2 separate regions of the Homo sapiens genome follow, and region 2 is linked to region 1. Evidence: fine-mapped expression QTL. Tissue or cell type: whole blood. Region 1 holds a variant in brackets; the other region holds the start of a gene. All regions are shown on one strand. Distances are from middle to middle.

The links. PIP is the estimated chance that this variant, and not a neighbour inherited with it, causes the effect.
Region 2: it holds the start of LINC02610, and the variant in region 1 is fine-mapped to the expression of LINC02610 in whole blood (TOPMed, PIP above 0.99).

The regions. Positions count from the first base shown.
Region 1 is chr2:238,275,710-238,280,905 of GRCh38, reverse strand. PER2 (period circadian regulator 2) reads left to right here. Exons shown (of 23, transcript NM_022817.3): 2 at 2,951-3,199; 3 at 3,713-3,775; 4 at 5,009-5,163. The coding sequence starts at 2,970. Among named protein-coding and RNA genes, the nearest start is that of PER2, 10 kb to the left of the region's middle. RefSeq lists an enhancer at 965-1,589. The variant G/A (reference allele first, on the strand shown) is at 2,589.
Region 2 is chr2:238,229,636-238,234,763 of GRCh38, reverse strand. LINC02610 (long intergenic non-protein coding RNA 2610) reads left to right here and starts at 3,087. Exons shown (of 3, transcript NR_026926.1): 1 at 3,087-3,430. It also overlaps the pseudogene TARDBPP3. RefSeq lists silencers at 1-40, 191-320 and an enhancer at 21-522.

The DNA.
Region 1 (5,196 bases):
GGATGTTGGTAGGACTTTCTTTATCCTTGAAGATACCGTTTGTCATCTGGATGCACTTAGGCGTTGGACTCTTGTCCTTTGATTGGCAGATTCAGATCTGTCTCTGGTTCAGGATGGTTCTCTTTATGTGTCTCGCTCATTATGGTTTCTGTTTTATTGTTCTCGTCTCTTTCAGAAAGAGCTGTAATCCACAGGTAAAACCCGGCTGTCCTCCATCTCTCTTCTCTTCTCCTTTCCCTTTGCATTTTAAAAGTCTGTCACGCATCTCCTATCACTGAAGCCATTTTCTTTTTATTGATTCTGAACTTTGTCCTTTCTAGTTTTCCATTCTAATGTGGCATTTTCATCTCAGTCAGTGGCCTTATCTCATCCCTCATTACTTGTTTCATTGAATCCATCATTTCTTGAATTCTTAGGATGAAAAGTAGATGGTGTCTTAATTTGCTGCTTCCTCTGTGGCATGAGGGTTGTGTTCAGTTGTCTTTGCTGTGTGTGTTTTCCACAGCCCCGTGTTGGCTTTCTTCTGTTTATTAGTTTGTGAACAAGGCGAGGTCTAGTCGGCCCTGCTGTTCTCCAGACACTGATGTGGGTGGATTCTCCATGAGCCCCGCCTCTCACCAGGCTGTCCTGGAGTGGCTCACCGGCGAATGGGCTCGACCTGGGGAAGGGGATGCTGAAGGCTCTTGTTGGAGCTTAGCCATTCAGTTCCTGGGGCCAGCTGTTGGAATCCGGCACCCTGTATGTGTAGCCCTCAGTATTGCTGGCTGGTTTCTAGCCCTTTCTTAGAGTTGCCCTGTTGGGGAGGGCACCTGGGGGTGTTCAGTGGGTGAAGCGTCTCCAGGAGAACCTCTCCTTCCCACAGGATTTCTGTTCCTGTGTCCGTTCTTCTCCCACAGCTTCCTCACGAAGCATCTTCCTGGTGGTAGAGCTCTTGACTGTCCAGCCTTGGCCATGGCTTGGGCCTTCCATGGCCGGGGGTAGCAGGGATCTCAGCACTAGCCACTTCCTCAGGGGTATTTGGACTCCAGTGCACTCTTCATGCTCCTTCCATCTCAGCGACAAGCAGCCGGACGCACCTTCACTTTGTGGCAAATGATTGGGACCCTTCGGGACTTCTAGGGCTGCTGAAAATGATCCCTCCCCCCGACCAATTGTATGATCCTTGGTCATTTCACGTGGGTACTGGTGGGAAGGAGGTGGAAGGGGAGGCTCTCCCAGAGCTAGATGGGAACTGGAGCATAAGATGTTTCACAAGATTTGGGGTGTGGAATCCAGAAACCCTTCTCTCCCTTTGTTCCAGCTGCCCTGGGAAGGGCCAAACGGATGCCATGCAGAAGTGGAATGCCACACTGGGCCAGAGTTGGGGCTGAGCACAGTGCAGTGGCAGGAAGCAGGAGGCCCCCACACAGCTGAGCCTGGGTGTAGGGTGGGGGTCCCATCTTCAGATGCCGGCAGGCCTGGAATCCAGGGCTGTCATCTGCTACTGTGTGGCCTGGGGTGAGCTACCCACCCCTGTTGGCTGCTCCGTAGAACGATCTCCTGCGCACCATGTAGACCGTGATCCAGAGTTGCTGGGAAGCTGTGTGTTGGGTGCTTAGCATCATGTCTGTAGTCAGCAGCATCACCCCAGAGCCTCACAGCTGTGTTCATTAAGCATGACCACTTGTGTCAAGCAGGGCCTTCATCTGGCTCTCTCCAGTGCCCCGCTTGAGTGGGTGCCTGCTTCCTGCTGGGACTCTGCTGAAAACGCTGTCCTGGGGATGGGGAGACATCACTGGGTGAAGAAGGGAGGACCCGGGATGGCATTTTGGCCTCTCACCTGCTAATCAGTCCCACCCCTCCCTACTCCCTGTCTCTGTTCACCCCCCCTCAGTTTGTGTCCAGGATGATCGCTGGTCTGTCTCTAATTTCAGCCACTCCACCCACCTACCCCAAAGTGCAGAGGTTAAGTTTCTGACCAGCACAGCAGTGCAAGCCTGTCCAAATGCAAGCTGAGTTCCGTGGGCCTGGCACTCAGAGTGCCTCAGCAGCTCCCAACCATTCCCAGTAAATGTGAAGCCACATTGTCCTGGCCCCTCTCCATCCCACTTGTACATGCTTGTGGGGCCTGGGATCCCCGAGCTGCTGGGAGGGTTCCACACCTGCCAGGCCCCTCTGCCCTCTTTACCCGGCAAGCCCTGTCTGTCCCCATGTCTCCTGCTAGCCTTGGCTCCTCCTCCTGTAACTGTGCCGTGCTGTAATGGCCAAGATTTCTGAACCCGGCTCCCCCACCCCACCATCATCTGGGGAAATTTATAAAAGGCAGATCACCTATTCAGAGGGACCATGTGTTTTTCCCAGCACCCCACAGGCCGGGTGTTGATTATCAGTGCTCTTGTCTGCCTTCTGATGAGGCCGTCAGCAGCTCTATGTCGGGCTGAGGCTGCCTCATTCAACCATCTTCCTAATCCATGGCAGATAGGAGCTCTTGTCAATAAGAACAAATAAGTAATGTGATGAACTAACGTGCGTGTGATTGATCCCGATGAAAGGGCAGTTTTGGCTGCGTGTGGTTGGCCTGTAATCTCAACATTTTGGGAGGCTGAGGC[G/A]GGCAGATCGCTTGACTTCAGGAGTTCGAGACCAGTCTGGGCAACATGGCAAAACCCTGTCTCTACCAAAAATACAAAAAATTAACCAGGCATGGTGGTGAGTGCCTGTGGTTCCAGCTACCCTGGAGGCTGAGGTGGGAGGATCGCTTGAGCCCAGGCACTGCATTCCCTGGGCAACAGAGCCAGACCCTGTCTCCAAAGTAGAAAGAAAGAAAGAGAGAGAGAGAGAGACAGAGAGAAGAAAGAAAGAGACTGCAGTTTCATTAGTAACAGAAAGAGTCAAATGGGTGCTCTACCTGATGGCTGCAGCGCCCCTTGTGCGTGTGCTTGTTAATGCGTGACAGCATCCCTCTGTTTGCCAGCTTCGTTCCAGAGCCCAGCATGAATGGATACGCGGAATTTCCGCCCAGCCCCAGTAACCCCACCAAGGAGCCCGTGGAGCCCCAGCCCAGCCAGGTCCCACTGCAGGAAGATGTGGACATGAGCAGTGGCTCCAGTGGACATGAGACCAACGAAAACTGCTCCACGGGGCGGGACTCGCAGGGCAGTGACTGTGACGACAGTGGGAAGGAGCTGGGGATGCTGGTGGAGCCACCGGATGCCCGCCAGAGGTGAGTTCAGCCTCTGGCCAGATGGAGGCTGGGCAGGTTGTTTTCTCAGTGGCTCATTTCTGCTGTGATTTGATTGCTTTTGCAATCTTTAAATCATGATTACCAAGTTTTTCAAGATTTTTGAAAATACCTAAAATGTGCCAGTGTCTGTCCTTCCTCATAACGAGGCCCTGTCGAGTTCGCAGATCCAGTTGCCAACAGACAGGTACTGGGTAGTGTAAGGAGATCTTGGGAGGTAGCAGTGGTGGGTAACCCAGCCAGTGGCTGCTTATACAACACTGGGCAGTTTATAGAAAAGGAACTGGCTCCTGTTATCATGTGTTTCTGTGTCCTGGTACTTAGTTTTTCTGATGTCTGAAGGTTTTATATTCCAGTTTTATCTTAACCTTGTATTTTTAAAAAATTGTCTTACCATGGTATTATCTAGCCTGTTATCACTGGTAGGATGGCAGGGGAAGATGTGTCTGGAGCATACAATTGTCTAAATTTTGCTTTTATTTTTTGTTTTCATAGTCCAGATACCTTTAGCCTGATGATGGCAAAATCTGAACACAACCCATCTACAAGTGGCTGCAGGTAAGGCCAATTAGAACTTCATACATAGAGGTTTTAGAGAAATTGAAAGACTTCTTATTGGAGGTTAGTTTTCTGGGAGTGACGTGGCTTTTTTTAAGCTGTGCTAAAACCCATCTGTGTGGCTATGTGGGTACGAACCCAGCCTCACTCTGGCCTTTCAGACACTGACTGTGTCCCCTCACCGTCCAGAGCCCCCGGGATGTCGCTCCAGTACCTGTAGCTCCTCCCAGCTCTACTCGAAGCCGACTTTGCCTGAGTCTTGGGCATTTTCATCTGGAACATTCTTCACCCTTCGTAGGTGTTTGTAACAAACTTACCCTATGTCAATTTTCATGTCACCTCGGGAGCAGAACCCGGCTCCTTGTCCAGGGCATGTGGGCACTTTGCATTGCCTGAGAAACCTTGATTTCCATCATTCCTTCTGCACCCTCTGTTCCACACAGGCCCATCTTCATCAGCCAGTGCCCCGCTGTCCTGTCTCTCTAACATCTCTGTATCCTCAATTAATGTTTGAAGACCCTTTTCCACAATCCCCTTTTCTCTGTGTTCATGGCTCACTTTTATGTCCCAGGAAGTCACTTTGCTGTCCTCTGTAATCCCATCACTCAGTCCTTCTTTACCTGGGGCAGGGAAGAAGGGCACAGCTTAGTGCACAGTCCACTGCACCAGACTATGGGTCGACCAGTATCCTTTCCTGAGCAAAGCCTAGCTCTAACCCTTCAGGGAAAAGAACACAGTTGGAGGGACTTCTCCAGCATTCAGTTGGGTTAGAGCGGTGACTCTTGACCAGGAACAATTTGTCTCCCAGCGAGAAACATCTGGCAATGTCTGTTGACAGCTCTGATTGTCATACTTGGCCAGGGTCTCCCTGGTCTATTGTGGGTGAGGCCAGGGATGCTGCTAGATGTCCTACAGAGCCCCACCAAGGGCCACCCAGACCAGAACATCTCTAGAGCCGAGGCTGAGAAAATCTACAGAGCCCCACAAAGGGCCACCCAGACCAGAACATCTCTAGAGCCGAGGCTGAGAAAATCTACAGAGCCCCACAAAGGGCCACCCAGACCAGAACATCTCTAGAGCCGAGGCTGAGAAAATCTACAGAGCCCCACAAAGGGCCACCCAGACCAGAACATCTCTAGAGCCGAGGCTGAGAAAATGGGCAAGAGGCACGTTTCTTCAGGAAAGGACACCTAGGAAGCTAACATTTGGCTGCCTCTTTCTTGAATCCTGCAGTAGCGACCAGTCTTCGAAAGTGGACACACACAAAGAACTGATAAAAACACTAAAGGAGCTGAAGGTCCACCTCCCTGCAGACAAGAAGGCCAAGGGCAAGGCCAGTACGCTGGCCACCTTGAAGTACGCCCTCAGGAGCGTGAAGCAGGTGAAAGGTACGTCGGCCTCGCACATCTGCTCCAAACCTA
Region 2 (5,128 bases), 46 kb after region 1:
CAGCCTCGTTTCTAACCTGGGCCTCCGCAGCAGGCCTCTGACTCCCCTCCCACTCCAGTCCTGACCGTGACCTTCAAGACTCTACCCGGTTCAGCACCGCCGCCCCCCGGGGCTCCTCCCTTCCAGCCCTCCCTACGCTCTGCTCAGGCCTCTGCAAGTGACCCGAGAGCCAGGACCCGGACGGTCTCGATCAGCCAGTCGCCCAGCCCTTGAGCCCTTCCGGGACTGCCCGGAGCCGGCGCTGGGGAATACCGAGTCCCTTGGAGCCGGGTTCGGGGGGCGCCGTGAGCTGGGAGGCGCTCGGAGGAGCCGAGGCCTTGACCACGCCCCCTCCAGCCCCGCCCCGCCAGAGGCGAGCCGCGGGGCCTCCTGGGAGATGTAGTTCCGACCCCTTTACTTAGATTTTTGGTTTTTTTTTTTTAAATCAGTTTTATTTAAGAATTTCCAACAATGACAACTCTTATAAAAAGCATCCAAGCACAGGACACAGAACTGCAGCAAACAGCATTCTTATGGGTAGCTAACAGACATTAGAACTTCTACCCTTCTTTGAGACACCAGAGTTCACTGCTGAACTCTGCTTCCAAGTCCTCCTGCAAAGCACACCACAAGCTCAGTCCATGTTCTCAGCCCATCAGCTTCAGTTCACATTGCCACACTTACATATCAGTAACAGAAGAGAACACACACCATACAGCATTCACAGCAGTTGACAAAGGGGTAGGGGGAGTACAAGTATCATTTCACTTAACACATTCAAATAAAGTGGGTTATCTAAGAACAAAAACTCAAAGTCTTCCAACAGATGTGGATGTCCTTTGAATGCAAAAAACATTCGTACATTATTTGCTATCATTGCTGTCTGCACACTGTCACCAAAGCCGCAGGATTGAGAAACACATCTCGCCAAGTTAAAAAATATCCGTTATGCACCACCAAGTCTCTGCACGTGCTCTCTCCTTTTCTCACTCATACTAGCCTTTCATGCCTCAGCACCACCGTCAATCCCACACAAGGTTTCAAAAGTTCAAACAGCCTTCTAGTTCCATATCACAGCCTTGCGTTCACAGCGTTGATACGACTCTATGAAATAAAGAGTAGCAGATAAAAATGGGACACCCACCGTCAAAGACGCGGCCTGTGATGCGTGATGACGAATTCTTGAATGAGAAGGCATGTAGACAGAAGTGTTCCTATGGCAGAATATTTACAGCACTACTTTCAACCAAGTGCTTCTTCCATAAACATTTGAAATGAGATGAACTGCAGAGATTAAATGAAGGCTTCATATTGTACTTTTGTGTTTGAGGGGAGACAAGTGTTAAAAAACAAAACAAAAGAACCAAACTGTGACACCATGATCTTCTAAAAGGAGATTTTCTTAAGGAAAAAAATCCATATGGTGGGGTTCAAATTAAAACAAGGAATAAAGAATGTAGTTCTAATTCATGGCTTCCATTTTGAACATGCAAAGAACTCACTTGACAAGTCCAGGGATAAAATATTACAGGAGAAACCTTCTGATATCAATTGTAGTGTGTTGGTTTACCAATCAGGCAAACAGCAGTTCACTTTCAACCACTCAATATTTCAACCTTTCATGTAACAAAACTTATAAAATTCCTTTAGCTGTTCCTTTTTCTAAAGAAAAATGTCAAAAATACTACTGAATATACTCCACACTGAAGAAACCAATTTTGAAAATTCTTAGTACATATGTATTTTACAATATACTTACCATGAGTTTAGAAAAATTTGAATTCCAACCATTCTATACCAACCAACCACAACCCCACTGTCTACGTTCCCAGCCAGAAGACTTAGAATCCATGCTTGAGCCAAAGCCGCCATTAAAACCACTGCCCGACCCTGCATTGGATGCTGATCCCCAACCAATTGTTGCACCAAAATTAGAACCACTACAAGAGTTATTTCCAGAACCGAAGGCCTGGTTTGGCTCCCTCTGCATGTTGCCTTGGCTTTGGTTATCATCCGATGGGCCTGGCTGCTTCGCTGGCTGGCTAACACACCCATCGTACACCAACTGCTCTGCAGCACTGCCTGGGGGGCAGCCATCATGGCTGGATTAATGCTGAACGCACCAAAGTTTATCCCACCACCCATATTACTACCTTGATTGTTTCCCAAACCAGCTCCACCCCCTCTACTCTTACCAAATCCACCCTGATTCCCAAAGCCACCTGGATTACCACCAAATCTTCCACTTCTTGCTGTCTATTGCTATTGCGCTTGGGTTCGGCATTGGATATGTGAACGCTGATTCCTTTCATCGAGTCCTCTCCACAAAGAGACCGCGCAATCTGATCATCTGCAAATGGAACAAAGGCAAAGGCCCTGAACGGCTTGGGGACGAAGACATCCATCACATCCCCATACTGAGAGAAGAACTCCCACAGCTCATCCTCAGTCATGTCCTCCGTACGGCGCCCCACAAACACTTTTCTGCTTCTCAAAGGCTCATCTTGGCTTTGCCGCACCATAAGAACGTCTCCAAAGGTACTACAGTACTCTTTCAGGTCCTGTTCAGTTGTTTTCCATGGGAGACCCAACACTATTAAATCGGACTGGTCTTTTCACTTTCACTGCTGATGAAGCTTCTGTCTCACCCATTTTTCTTTTGTTATCTTTCGGATAGTTGACAACATACACCGGATTTCTCCAGCCAGCATCGGGGGCATGCAGAATTCCTTCTACCAGCCGGACACCTCTCATACATTGAGACACCGGATTCCTGCAGCGAAGCCCACACGCCCCTGGAAACTGGGCTGTAACCGTGGACAGCAGCACCGTCCCATCGTCTTCCGATGGTATTTCAATGGGCTCATCGTTCTCATCTTCGGTTACCCGAATATATTCAGACATCTTTTACTTTTCCACTAGGCCGCTGCTGGGAAGCCCGACAGGGACACCGAGGCAGCGACGGACCCAAGCGCCAGTGTTTTTTTGTTTGTTTGTTTTTTGTTTTTTTAAAGAGGCCACCACAAGTTGAGGCGGGACTACAACTCCCAGAGGCCGCCGCGGCCCGGAGGCCACGCCCCTTGGCGGCGAGCTCTGAGCCCTTTGCCGCATTTGACACTCGACATCCTCGTGCTTCTTAAAGCACTTGCCCAACGGTGAGCAACGGCCTCCAACGGTGCCCGAGGGACTCGCGCTGCCCGTTAAGCAGCTTTGCGGTGGCGGAGGCTGGGCTGCCGTCTCTCCGACATCCCGGGACGGAGGAAGAGATGAAGGCTCTGCAGCCCCCGCCGCCCGATTTACGCTTGAGAAAGCGAAGGCGAGAGAGGTCGTCCAGCCCCTGGGGGCCCAGCCCTAGAGAGCGGGGCGCGGGCTGCGGGGCCCGGCGGCCTGGACGGCGGAGCGTTGAAAGCTCCCCCAGGGATAGGAAGTGCAGCCGAAATCAACGATTGAGGTCAGTGAAGGAGCGGACGCTTGAGGCCTTGGAGGGGAAGCAGGTTTCTCCAGGAGGGAACCCGGGCCTCCGCTTTGCTCAGCGCTCCCCTCGCGAATGTGTTGAGCACCTGTTATGTGCTGGGGGTACAGAGGTGAGACTCACAAGGCCCCTGCATTGTCTTTAAGATCAGCAAGACCCCGCAGAGAACCCAAATCCAACGCGCACTGCCCAGAGGCAGACACTGGCATTCCTTGATAGACGGTAGCCAGGGAAGCCCAGGTCTTACTAGATTATTATCAGTACTTGGATTTGAATGTATCTGAGAGGAGGAGGGTTAAGGTTTAAGCTGTGGCTCAGAAGCCCCTCAGCTCTTCGTGGAATCTCCCAGGCTTTTCACTCTTGCATCCTCATGGAAAAATACTGCCCTCCCTGGGAAACCATGCTTTCTGTGCACACCTGCTCTGTTCCCATGTCGCTGTACTACCTATTGACCTGTCAATGGATGATGACACTTGGGGTACTATCCTCTCTCCTCCAGATCTTGCCCCACCTTAACCTTGAAAGAATATTAAATGCGCCCTTAGACGTCAGGAACCATCCCTCAAACCTTGCCATTCCTCTCTGTTGAACCTGCTCCAAATCTTAAGTGCCAACCTCCATCTTATCCACTTTATCCTGGGGAACTTGTCCTCACACCCCGTTGAGGTTTCTTACTTATTGTCCTACTGTTTTCTTCACACTCCAGTTTCTTAAAAACAGTCTTCATTCTCATTTTCTTCATTTCCTCATCACCTGTTTGTCCCTAACAAAATTTCAGTATGGCTACATTTCCTGCCATTCTACTATAGAAAACTTCTGCCAGAGTCTCCAATGAACTCCTGATTGCCGAGTAGACTCTTCAGTTTTCTCACCCGAACTTTGCGGCATTTGATACTCAACATCCTCATGCTTCTTAAAACATTGTTCTTGCCAGAGCACGGTGGCTCACACCTGTAATCCCGGCACTTTGGGAGGCTGAGTTAGGCAGATCGCTTGAGCCCAGGAGTTCAAGACCAGCCTGGGCAACATAGCAAGACTCCATCTCTACCAAAAATGCAAAAAATTAGCCAGACATGGTGGCCCGCACCTGTAGTCCCAGCCACTCGAGAGGCTGAGGTGGGAGTATCACTGGAGCCCGGGAAGTCAAGGCTGCGGTGAATTGAGATCACGCCAGTGTGCTCTGGCCTGGACAATGGGAGTGAGACCTTATCTCAAAAAATTGTTCTCTGTCTAGTCTTCTTGCTCTTCTTGTTCCACCATTCCTTCTCAGGTTCTGGCAGTGGCTCTTCACAACTGGATATTAAATGTTGTCTTTTTTTTTTTTTTTTTTGAGACAGGTTCTCACTCTGTCTCAGGCTGGAGGCTGGAGTGCAGTGGTACGATCATGGCTCACTGCAACCTCGACCTCCCAGACTCAAGTGATCCTCCCACCTCAGCCTCCTAAGTAGCTGGGACTATAGGCGCACATCACCATGCCTGGCTGATTTTTGTATTTTTTTTGTAGAGAGAGATGTTTGTAGTGTTGCCCAGGCTGGTCCAGCAATCCACCTGCCTCACTCCCAAAGTGCTGGGGTTATAAGCATGAGCCACCGTGCCCGGCGAATATTGTCTTCTTAAATATTGTGCCCCACATTTCTTTGCTAGGCCCTCTTCTCTAGCTTCTAGGCTGTAATCTGT